2 linked regions of the Homo sapiens genome follow. The protein of the gene in region 1 interacts with the protein of each later gene in a biochemical or structural test. Each region holds a gene or a part of one and is shown on either strand. Other genes may lie near its edges.

Region 1 (4,388 bases):
CTGTTAAATAATAGGAATTTTTTTTTTTTTTTTTTTTTGGAGACAGAGTCTCACTTTGTTACCCTGGCTGGAGTGCAGTGGTGCGATCTCTGCTCTGCTCACTGCAACCTCTGCCACCCGGATTCAAGTGATTCTCCTGCCTTAGCACCCCGAGTAGCTGGGATTACAGGCGCCTGCCACCGTGCCTGGCTAATTTTTGTAGTTTTAGTAGAGACGGGGTTTCACCATCTTGGCCAGGCTGGTCTTGAACTCCTGACCTTGTGATCCTCCCAAAGTGCTGGGATTACAGGCATGAGCCACCCAGCCCGGCCAATAATGGGAATTTCTTTCTTTCTTTCTTTTTTTTTTTTTTGAGGCGGAGTCTCGCTCAGTAGCCCAGGCTGGAGTGCAGTGGCAAGATCTCCACTCACTGCAACCTCCGCCTCCCGGGTTCACGCCTTTCTCCTGCCTTAGCCTCCCGAGTAGCTGGGACTATAGGTGCCCACCACCACGCCCGGCTAATTTTTTGTATTTTTAGTAGAGACGGGGTTTCACCGTGTTAGCCAGGATGGTCTCGATTTCCTGACCTTGTGGTCCGCCTGCCTCGGCCTCCCAAAGTGCTGGGATTACAGGCGTGAGCCACTGCGCCTGGCCAATAATAGGAATGTCTATCCAGCTGTCTGAGGCTCTTATTTGTAGGGTACAAGATGGTCATTAGTGAGGTATTTTTCTTTCTTTTTTTTTTTTTGAGCTTTGTTGCCTAGGCTGTAGTTCACTGGTGCAATCACAGCTCACTGTGCCCTCAGCCACCTGGGCTTGAGATCCTTCCACTCACCCCCCACTTCCCTGGTAGTTGGGTAGGTGTGCACCATCATACCAAGCTAGGAAAATTTTGTACAGACAGACAGGGGTCTCACCGTGTTGCCCAGGCTGTTGAATTCCTGGGCTCAAGTGGTCCTCCCGCCTTGGCCTCCCAAAGTGCAGGGATTACTGGTGTCAGCCACTGCGCCAGGCCTGTTTTTTTCTTTAGATGGTCATTGGTAGCTCATGAATATTTGGCTGTAGTGCCAAGTGAATACAGGTGTTTTGGATGTGGTTTGTGTCTGTATAGTTACATCATTTCTTTCTCTGGATTGGGCTCTTTGGATGTTACACATTATAAGAGTATAGACATCGAATCATTTGGAGATCTGTTTTGGTCACATAGTCTGTTTGTTACCTTTATATTGTAGCCCTCAGAATGCTGAAAGCAAAGCAAAGTTGCATGTCTAGGCAACCTAGGCCCTGGAAATGAAGGCAGGTGTTCCTGGCCTCTGGTGTGTCTTCATAATGTTAGGGGTGGTAGAGAATGGAGCTAGAAAGAATCTACTCTTTACTATGTCTTACTCTTCAGGGTTCATTCCAGCCCTTGAAGTCGGTAACTAAGTCCTAAAATGTTGGGATTGTGCAAGGAAGGCAGGGGCCTGGATTGGTACATGATACCTCACTGGGACCTCCTCCCAAACGCAGTGGTTACATACAGCCAGAACTCAGCAGCACCGGCATTTATGAGAGGTGTAAGAATGTGAGGATAAAGGATTGTTTGATCTGATTCTTCAGAGGAATTACTTGTCGTTTGGAGATTTTTTTTTTTTTTTTAAACATTCATGGTTTTGATTCTTTAGGAAGAGTCCTGGAAGTAGTAATGTGTGTAACTAAGTCATGAATTTAAACTTTATACCCTGTGCTTTAAGGCTGCTGTGTGTCACCTCTAGTGAGCCTGACTTGTACCACATTTTGGTCTGGTTTGTTGTGCTAGACTAGAATTAACAAAGATGATTTTTATGAGAGTGCTTAGGCTTTTGTGCTGTATGGACAGTTTGGGGTCTTTGGATACATTCCAGTGGCTATCAAGAGTATTGTGTCCTACTGAGAATTTGATTTTTGAGTTGAATGGATACGAATTAAATAGTACCTGGTTTGTTTGGCTTAATACATAATATTGAATTTTATTGTCTCACGTGAATAAAACTGAACACTTCATGATTACATGATGGGGAAACATGTAGGGGCTTTGTCTCTATTGAAATATTTTTCTTACAGTTGTTTTTGTATTTTATTTTAGGCAAAAGTCAACAACTCTAGCTTAATTGGAGTAGGCTATACTCAGACTCTGAGGCCTGGTAAGTATTCTTGATAAAGTAGGATTGTTTTGATAGTATTAAAAAATTTAGTTTTCATTCTTCAGCTTACTTTTCAGACCTTTCAAGCACACAGAAGAGTTGAAAGAAGAGTACAATAAATACGTGTTTACCTTTTACCACAATTTTTTATTTCTTTTTCTTTGCTTTTTTTTTTTTTGCTGGGCCATTTGGTCATGACACTTCTCTTCAGAATAAGGCCCGTCTCTTCTTTTCTGCATAACTATAATACTATCACACCTAAGAAAGTTAGTGATTCCTTATTATTTAATACCCACTTCCTGTCAGTTTCCTCGCTTGTATCTGAAATGTTTTGTAGTAATTTTTATTTTGTTGATCAAAGTTCACTCATTGCTTTGGTTCTGCCTATAGTCTTGTTGACTTTATATAATATTTTGAAGCGTGCTGTGTCTAGAACAGCGCTTCTCCAACTTCAGAGTGCACATGACTCATCTTGGAATCTGCTTAAAGTACTGGAGACTTCCCCCTTCAGATAGGGATTTTCCTCCCCAAAGTTTATTTTGGTGATTTTGAAACCTAAAGAAAAGTTGGAAGAATGGTACAATGAACATCATATGTCCTTACCTTGCATTGACCAATTATTAACAATTTATTAACAATTATTAACATTTACTACATTTATTTTATGTCTGAAACTTCACATACTTTTAAAAAAATGTATGTTTTGCAGACATACAGACATGGCAGCCCCTAGCATGTGTATCCTAAGAGTAAGACATTTTTCTTTATAAGCACAATACCATTGTCGCATCTAAGAAAACTAACATTAATGTAATACCAAATACATATTCAGATTTACCCCCGTTCCCAAATGTGTCTTTATTGTAGGTTTTCCTTTCTAGGATCGAATTATGATTATGTCTTTAGTCTCTTTTCATCGGGATAGTATACTCAACATTATAGTATATTCTAGAACACTTTGAAGTTGTTATTAAAACATTTCTCTGTGACTTGGTGCCTTAGCTAGAATGGTAACCCAGTTCTTCTGGTGTCTCAGATACTTCCAAGCGCCCTCTGGTGGCCAGCACTAGTAGGTCAGCTGACAGGCTGAGGAAGTGACAGGCAGGCTCTGGGGATGACTGTGAAAGAAGGCCCAGACTGAGTGACGTGCCAGGTACATCACGGTTTTTTGTTTTTGTGTTTTTTTGTCTTAATAGGTGTGAAGCTTACACTCTCTGCTCTGGTAGATGGGAAGAGCATTAATGCTGGAGGCCACAAGGTTGGGCTCGCCCTGGAGTTGGAGGCTTAATCCAGCTGAAAGAAACCTTTGGGAATGGATATCAGAAGATTTGGCCTTAATATATTTCCATTGTGACCAGCAGCAGGCTTTTTTCCCCCAAGAAGATGATCAAAACAAAGGATGATCTCAACAAGAGCTGTATTTTAAGTATTTAGACAGTTCTTTGTTAGCTGGTTTCTAGTTGGTTATCTAGTTACCAATGCTGCAGTCCTGCAGTCACCTATACATTATTTAAATGTATTTAACTGTTAAATGCGCTACCCACCAATAATGAAATAGACCTTTATGAAAACTGTGCAATTGTGTGCATGTTTGTTTTTATGTTCCTTTAGAAAACATTGACTGTTACCATTGAATGAGATGGATCAGTGGATATTAAGATGAGGTTACAAATTTTGTTAAGTTCAGCCATTATTACTTTTGGTATCCCAGAACATGACAAATTATGAATAAAACAAGTATACATAATTAATGGCTCCAAGTATTTGCGGAGTTCCACGTTTGCCAGCTAGGATCAAATCCCCGTGGTAGCTAGCCAATACTTGATTTTTCCAGTGAGTATTTTGCTCTGTACCTAAATCTGTGCCACAGAATCTTCTGTGTCCCTAGATTCCACGAGCTTTTTAAGACTACAATAAGAGGATACATGCTTTTACACTTTTACATGCACAGTTTGTAAGTCTGTGCAGAATTGCCCTGCATCATTGAAAGGAAAAAGAGAAGGTGCTGAAAAGTTACACAAACACACCATACCCCTGTGAGCTACTGCTAGGAACATAAAGTAGGCCCTGGTTTGGTGAGATGGTGTTAAGCATACAGAAGAGGAGTAAGGTGTAGACAGTGAGGGTAACCTGAGGGACTGTGAGAGGTCATTACTCATTTCCTTCTAGGCAGACACACTGAAAGGTGGGTATAGGTAGGAGACCAGAGACAACCCCTTTAGGCTGCGTGGCATTGGCCTTCATCTG
Region 2 (7,346 bases), on another chromosome or scaffold:
TCCTCCTGGAAACATGACTCTGCATCTCTCCCTTGCTCCCTCCCTCCATGTGGCTTTGACTCAGCAGAAACCTCTAACCCTGACCAGGGTCCTGGTGCTAGCTTCTGTGGGCAGAGTGAAGGCCACATGGTTGTTTCTACATGGGCCATGGGGGAGTGGCAAGGGCTGTGCATGTTACCACGATGAGGCCCAGAAACATTAGCTAGGCCCACTCTTCTGGGCCTTTTGGTCTTGGAACATCAGCACTAGGAGGGATGGATCTGAGATCAATTTTGATTGTTTTATAAATGGGGAAACTGAGGCCTCAAGAGAAAGCCAAGACCCTACCCTATCTAGGTCATACAACCAGTGTCAGAACATTGGTATTTGAGGTTGAACCAGGCCACAGAAAGAAGATTCCCACGGGCCATTTCCTGTACACCAGCTTCCTTCAGCCTCTCCCGTGTATCCTTCAGGTTTCTCATCCTTGCAGTGGGAATCCTTGAGCAGAGGAGCACACATCTCAGGAACCAGACTATCCAGTGGGATGAGTTCTGTCTCTCCCACTGAGGGTATGCTAGTTGGGGTAGTTGGGGCTACAGACCAGGTCACACCACAGCTGCTTGACAGGCAAGTGAGACCTTTGTCCTGGCTCATCTCCTCAGGAGATTGGTTCTCAGTGGGGCCAGGGTTCCCACTGGACCAGGAGGGTAGTGGGGAGCAGACCAGGTCCCTGTCTCCCTCTGCAGCTGTGTGTACACACGTTAGTGTGGTTTGTTTTTAGGTTCCCTGTAGACACCTAGCTTCCTTTTTTGCCCTTAGCGGAACTTGCTGTGGCTCTTCTGGGAGGCAGGCAGCTACCTGGGGAGTAGGCAGTTCTCAGATGTCTCTAAAGCAAATGGTAGGACCCTATAGGAAGATAATCCAGGCTCTCATGTCTTGCTTCTTAACATAAATCTGGGTACATTATTGGTTACATTACATTAGTTACATAAGGACTTCCCCCGGGCAACAGAGGAGAGAGGTTGAGGCTAGTCTGTTAGAGCTCTTGGTTATTTCCCCTGCCCTCCACCTACCCTGCCAGAGGCCAGGAAGGAGGTTGGTGGGGTAGGGGGTCCCTCAGTTTATAGAGCCTCACATCTTCAGTCTTTCCTGAAGTGGCAAGGGCATCTACTCATTGAATGTGATAGTTCTCTGTTGTGGGATTTGTTGGGTGAGCATTTGGCCTCAGGGAGCATCTTTGGCAGTCTCTGCTGTATGTGTATACACATGTGCATTTCTATACTGGTGTCTCTGTGTGTCCAGAAAAAGGAAAGAAGTGGGGTGTGTATGGGGAGGGTAAGGTTCATATTGGCCTCTGTGGCCCTAGGGAGAGATGCAGCCCCTGATATCTATAATCTCTGCCCTCTCCCATGCCTTTCCTGGGTTCTAGCTGATTCCTGCTTGTGCTGGTGTGGAAACTGAGGCACACAAGATCAGGTCCTGCCCCAGGGAGTAAGGTGACTAAGATGGTGGCTGGATTGGGGTGAAGGTGGTAATATCAGCTGGGGCCAGCAGTTACCCTTTGAGAGCCTGGCCTCCCCTTCACTCCCCCTAAATCTGTGATCCCAGGCAAGCTTTGCCACATTTCTGTGTCTCCTGGGTAAAGTAAGAGTGTTTTGGTAAGGATAGAATGAGTTGGAGTGTGAAAAGTCTTTGGTGTGGGACCAATTGTAGTATTGTACTGAGGATTTCTGAGCCCTGTTTGAGATGGGAACAGAGGTAGAATGGTGGGGGACCCCCTTCCAGCTGGCCTCTGGGAGGGGAGAACAGGTGCAGATTGCCCACAAGTGCAGCGTCAGCAAGAGGAGGAGTTTCAGTTTCTATCAAAACAAGTTCTCTGAATTCCCCTACCTCTGCAGGTCATCCCCCCAACCTCAGACCCCTCCACAGGGAAGTCAAGCCTGGCCCCCAGCCCTGTGTGCCAGCCTTCTGGGAAGAGGAGGGCTTTCTGGAGGACAGAGGTGGAGCTAGGAAAGTCAGAAAAACGAATTCTTTTTTTTTTTTTTGAGACAGAGTTTCGCTCTTGTTGCCTAGGCTGTAGTGCAGTGGTGTGATCTTGGCTCATTGCAACCTCCACCTCCCGGGTTCAAGCGATTTTTCTGCCTCAGCCTCCCAAATAGCTGGGATTACAGGCATCCACCACCCTGCCTGGCTAATTTTTTGTATTTTTAGTAGAGATAGGGTTTCACCATGTTGGCTCGGCTGGTCTTGAACTCCTGACCTCAGGTGATCCACCTGCGTCGGCCTCCCAAATTGCTGGGATTACAGGCGTGAGCCACCACACCTGGCCAAAAATGAATTCTTGTTGAGTACTTCCTATGTGTTTAGCTCTGTGCTTAGATGCTTTTCCTGCCTTATATTATTGGAGAAATCCTTCTATTCTCCCTTGTTGGGGTAGTACTATTGCTGTTTTCCTTGGTTTGGAGATGTATATTTTCTTCCACGTTAATGATTCCAAACTTAGGGTATACCTTATAATCAGTGTGGTGTGTTTCCCCCCTCAAAAGCTGTGATTAGGTACATGTTATACCATATCACCTATCAGTGCCATCATAGGATTGAGGAGAGAAGGTGGTATTTTACATTTTACAGATAAGTAAAGAAGTGTCATAACTCGTCCATACTTTAGGACCCTGTTTTATGAAGCCTGTATTGTTAATTCGATATTAATTTAACTGCTGAAGTTTTGTTAGAACTAACGGCCTAGAGGTAGACTTGTGGACCTTTGGTTTCGCTAAAGGTAGAGAGCCAGGAGAGGACATGCATCCTAGGTCTGCATTTGGGGCTTTCCTCTGGCTGAGGAATTGCAACAGAAATGAGGAAGGGCTTCATAAGTGGTTATGGCAACATTCTGGCTGACTCGTGGGTAACTAGCATATGAAGGAATCATTGTCGTCATGACAAATTGTGTTCCTGTTTCTTGACCACCTACTGTGCCTTAGGTGCTTGGCAAACCTCCTGTGTAGTTTTGACAACACCCAGCAGATGGAAGAGGAGTTACTGTCTCCACCTTATGCATGAGGACATTTCAGCTTAGAGAGGTTAAAGGCCTTATCCATTGCTACACAGCTAGGAGGCAGCAGAGCCTTTCTGCCAGGCAAAGGGGTCAGTGGCAGAGAAATGGGACCCTCAGGGGGTTTTCCCCCAGATCCCTTCCCTGTTCCACAGTCTCCTCTCTTTCCCCATTTTCCTGCATCTGGCATCTAGCTCTTGAAGATAGAACTCCCAGGCCTGGAAATGACCGTTGACCTTTCCATAGGAGATGGGCTTTCTCCAGCACCTCAGCCTATCTCTCTGAGCCTGGCCAGCCAACCCCTATTTAACCCCTTCATTCTCATCTTTGTTCCTGTTTACTGCAGCTGCCAACAGCACTGCCTCCCAGTACCCCAAGCTCAGTCTACAGAAATAGCTCCCCAAGTAGCTCACTGTGCGGGCTCTGTGGTCCTGGCTTCTAAGAAAGGCAGCAGCAGGGGGCCCCCAGCCTGTGCGCAGGACATGTGACTTGCTGGAAATGCCGCTGGGGAGGGCGGGGGAGAGTGTGGCCGCAGAACCCACATCCTTGTTTACATTGGTGAAGGGGCTACCCCCCTTCCCGCCTTCACAACCTCCACACCCCCTTACCCTTCAGGTCTCTTCACCTCCAAGAGGACTGGAGACAAACATGGGCCCTATTTTCTATCTCAGAGTAGCCTTTCTCACAGAACACTCCAGGGTAGGAAGGGGAAGGCAGGGAAGGTGTTCTTCTGACAGTTCTTCAGAGAGGTAGACTGACAGGGAAGAACTCAGGAGTGTTCCTGTGTGACCTGACCCTAGCCCCATGCCCCAGGGAGATCCCATCAGAGCAGTGGTCCTCTGGGGAAACAAAGGGAAATTCCCAAAACCAGTGGAAATCAGACTTGCATGATCTTCAGGCCCACTTTAATTTCACAGGGAGAAGAGCTCCCTGGCTTACCCAGCCTATCCATTTGCTCAGTAAACTTTTCCTGATTTCCTTTACTGTATCGGGCCCTGAGCTGGGGGTGGACTTTGGTGTGAACTGCCCTTTGCCTTCTGTGGGAGCCCAGTGTGGTCGGGCAGAAGTCTATGCACACCTTTGATAAATCTGGTGATAGAGGTGTCCTGGGTAGTGGGGAACTGTATTAAAGAACATGTTGGGCCAGGCGCGGTGGCTCACACCTGTAATCCAGGCACTTTGGGAGTCTGAGGCGAGAGGATCGCTTGAGCCCAGGAGGTCAAGGCTGCAGTGAACTATGATCGCGCCACTGCACTCCAGCCTGGGCGACAGAGCGAGACCTTGTCTCAAATAAATAAATAAATAAAGAACACATTGGTGTTTGAGAAGTAGGCAGCTGACGAGGATGGAAGGAGCGTCCTGAAGAGAAGGAACGGCATGTGTGAAGATCCTCAAGCGAAGCAGAGGGAGTGTGTTTCCTTCTCGCCTTAGTTTGACCAAATCTCACGACGCCTGGACTATTCGGGCCACAGGCTGCCCATCCTGAGTTAAGCTAAAGTTAGTTGCATGTGTGTCTTATCTCTTTTACTAGACTGTGTGCTCCCCGAAGGTAGGGGCAGGATTTTACTCACCTCTGTCACCTTCACAGTACCCCACATTCAGGCCTCCCTACGGAGGAAGGAATTCTGATTTACTCTGTGGCTACTCTGTCCCAAGCCCAGTGGTAGTTATTTTATACCCGTTATCTCATTTAATCCCCACAAAAGGCCTGCCATTTGGTTATCCCTTTTTTTTTTTTTTTTTTTTTTTGAGACAGAGTCTTACTCTGTCGCCCAGGCTGGAGTGCAGTGGCATGATCTCGGCTCACTGCAACCTCTGCCTCCTGGGTTCAAGCGATTCTCCTGCTTCAGCCTCCCAAGTAGCTGGGATTATAGGCGCCCGCCACCATGCCCGGCTAATTTTTGTATTTTTGGTAGAGACGGGGTTTTACCACGTTGGCCAGGCTGGTCTCGAACTCGTGACCTCAAGTGATCTGCCCACCTTGGCCTCCCAAAGTGCTGGGATAACAGGTGTGAGCCTCCACGCCTGGCCTGTTATCCCTCTTTTTCCCATTTTACAGATGAGGTATATGAGGCTCAGAACACTTGGGTCACTTGCCTCTGGTCACTCAACTCTCTAGTATCTGGCAGAACTGGGCTTGGAGCCCATTTTTTTTTCTTTCCTTTTTTTGTCTTTGTTCCCTTTTTTTTCAGCCTACAAAGGCCATGTTGACTTGTAGGAGTCAGGAAAACTGAATTCAGAGTTGACTCTGTCACAGACTGACTCTTTGTGACCTTGGACAAACCACAAACTCCCCCTGAACCTCAGTTTCCTCATGTGGAAAGCAAAGGGGGTGTGGGAATCAATAGCATTTGAGGCCAACCTGTGGAACTTAGAATGTTGTTGATTTCTCTGAGTGGCCACGTGTACCCTAGACAAAGTCATCTGCCCAAGAGGCCTGTGGATGTGTTCCTCTCACCTGCACTCTCTTGTTCTTCAAGTCTGGCCCTGCCTGCCATATTTTTCCATGACCCCGTTCTAGCCTACAAGGGCAAGAACTCTCCAGGCCTTGGGGTAGAAAAGGGAATTTCCCTGGTCCCCCAGTTCCTCCTCCCCAAAGGATGTTCTATGATTCAGAGCTCTTCTCTGGCATCTCTGACCCTAGCTGCTGCTTTCTTCTGCCCCCACAGCTGACCAGGTGTATGGAGACCAGGACATGCATGAGGTTGTGCGAAAGCATTGCATGGACTATCTGGTGAGAAAATGGAGGCCTTTGGGGAAGGGGCAGGGTGGGAGGATTTCTTCTCCACACAGACCTTAACCTTCCAATCTATTCTGCAGATGAAGAATGCCGACTACTTCTCCAACTATGTCACAGAGGACTTTACCACCTACATTAACAGGAAGCGGAAAAACAATTGCCATGGCAACCACATTGAGATGCAGGCCATGGCAGAGATGTACAACCGTCCTGTGGAGGTGTACCAGTACAGCACAGGTACTTCTGCAGTGGGTAGGTGAGGGAAAGATGGTGCCTCATTCGAGCCTGCCCAACCTGGCCTGCTGTGGATGCTCCCTCCTTCTCTTTCTCTGCAGAACCCATCAACACATTCCATGGGATACATCAAAACGAGGACGAACCCATTCGTGTTAGCTACCATCGGAATATCCACTATAATTCAGTGGTGAATCCTAACAAGGCCACCATTGGTGTGGGGCTGGGCCTGCCATCATTCAAACCAGGGGTGAGTGGGTCCCTGTGCCCAGAATGGCTGCTGGATATAGAGGTCAGAAACCTCTGTTGGAGTCTGTTTTGCCCCTAACTCACAAAAATATCCTGTCTCCTCTCTCCCCTGAGGTCTCACCCTTACAAAAAAAAAAAAAAAAATAGGGAGTTACTTAAGGTGATCTCTCAGGGCTTGTTCTTTGGTCTTGGTTTGCCTGTCTGAGTTGGCTTACCTATCTTTTGTGCCCGTTGAGGGCTGGCATTTTAGGATGTGGAGTCCTATTTTGGAGCAGTGAGCCAGGGCTTGCTCTGGGCATCTTGGCATGGATCTTTCTCCTGGGATCATAGTGGTTACAGACAGCCATGGTCACAGAGACATGGGGTACAGGCCTGGCCCCACCACTCACTGGCTGTGTGATCTAGGCAGATTCTGTAAGTATTCCAGGCTGGCAGCTTGGCTGATACAGAAAGCACCTCCCACTGGGCCTGGGGCCTAGTAGGTGTTCAGAAGGTGGCAGTGCATTTTCCCAGCACATACCGATAGATTCTCATTCATTTCTCTCTCTCTCTCTTACAGTCATTTGCTGAGGATTTTGGTATCTTCTATTCAGGTTTCACTTCTACAAACACAAAGTACTCCTGCTTCATTTTCGGAAACACATAGCCTAACACCAACACACCCTCCAACATAGGGTTCTTTTTTGTTTTGTTTTTAAATAAACTTAATTTTAGAGCAGGTTTAGATTTACAGAATTACTGCAAAGAGGCTGGGCACGGTGGCCCACACCTGTAATCCCAGCATTTTGGGAAGCCGAGGCTGGCAGATCACCTGAGGTCAGGGGTTCAAGACCAGCCTGGCTAACATGGTGAAACCCTGTCTCTACTAAAAATACAAAAATTAGCTGGGTGTGGCAGTGGGTGCCTGTAATCCCAACTACTCTTGGGAGGCTGAGGCAGGAGAATCACTTGAAACTGGGAGGCAGAGGTTGCAGTGAGCCAAGATTGTGCCACTGCACTCCAGCTTGGGCGACAGAATGAGACTCTGTCTCAAAAAAAAAAAAAAAAAGTTACAAATATATTACAGAGTTCCCATATGCCTCGCTATGA

What was found.
Region 2: the proteins of VDAC2 (region 1) and OTUD5 form a complex in vitro, tested with the Homo sapiens proteins (one study listed by BioGRID).

Annotation. Positions count from the first base shown.
Region 1 is NC_000010.11:75,227,561-75,231,948, forward strand, and holds the end of VDAC2 (non-selective voltage-gated ion channel VDAC2), read left to right. Parts: intron 1-2,083; coding exon 2,084-2,141; intron 2,142-3,337; coding exon 3,338-3,429; 3' UTR 3,430-3,888; downstream 3,889-4,388. UniProt on the Homo sapiens protein: Non-selective voltage-gated ion channel that mediates the transport of anions and cations through the mitochondrion outer membrane and plasma membrane.
Region 2 is NC_000023.11:48,933,376-48,940,721, reverse strand, and holds part of OTUD5 (OTU domain-containing protein 5), read left to right. Parts: intron 1-4,370; exon of another isoform or gene 4,371-4,531; intron 4,532-5,703; coding exon 5,704-5,768; intron 5,769-5,854; coding exon 5,855-6,011; coding exon of another isoform or gene 6,012-6,026; intron 6,027-6,109; coding exon 6,110-6,258; intron 6,259-7,346. UniProt on the Homo sapiens protein: Deubiquitinating enzyme that functions as a negative regulator of the innate immune system. Has peptidase activity towards 'Lys-48'- and 'Lys-63'-linked polyubiquitin chains. Can also cleave 'Lys-11'-linked ubiquitin chains (in vitro).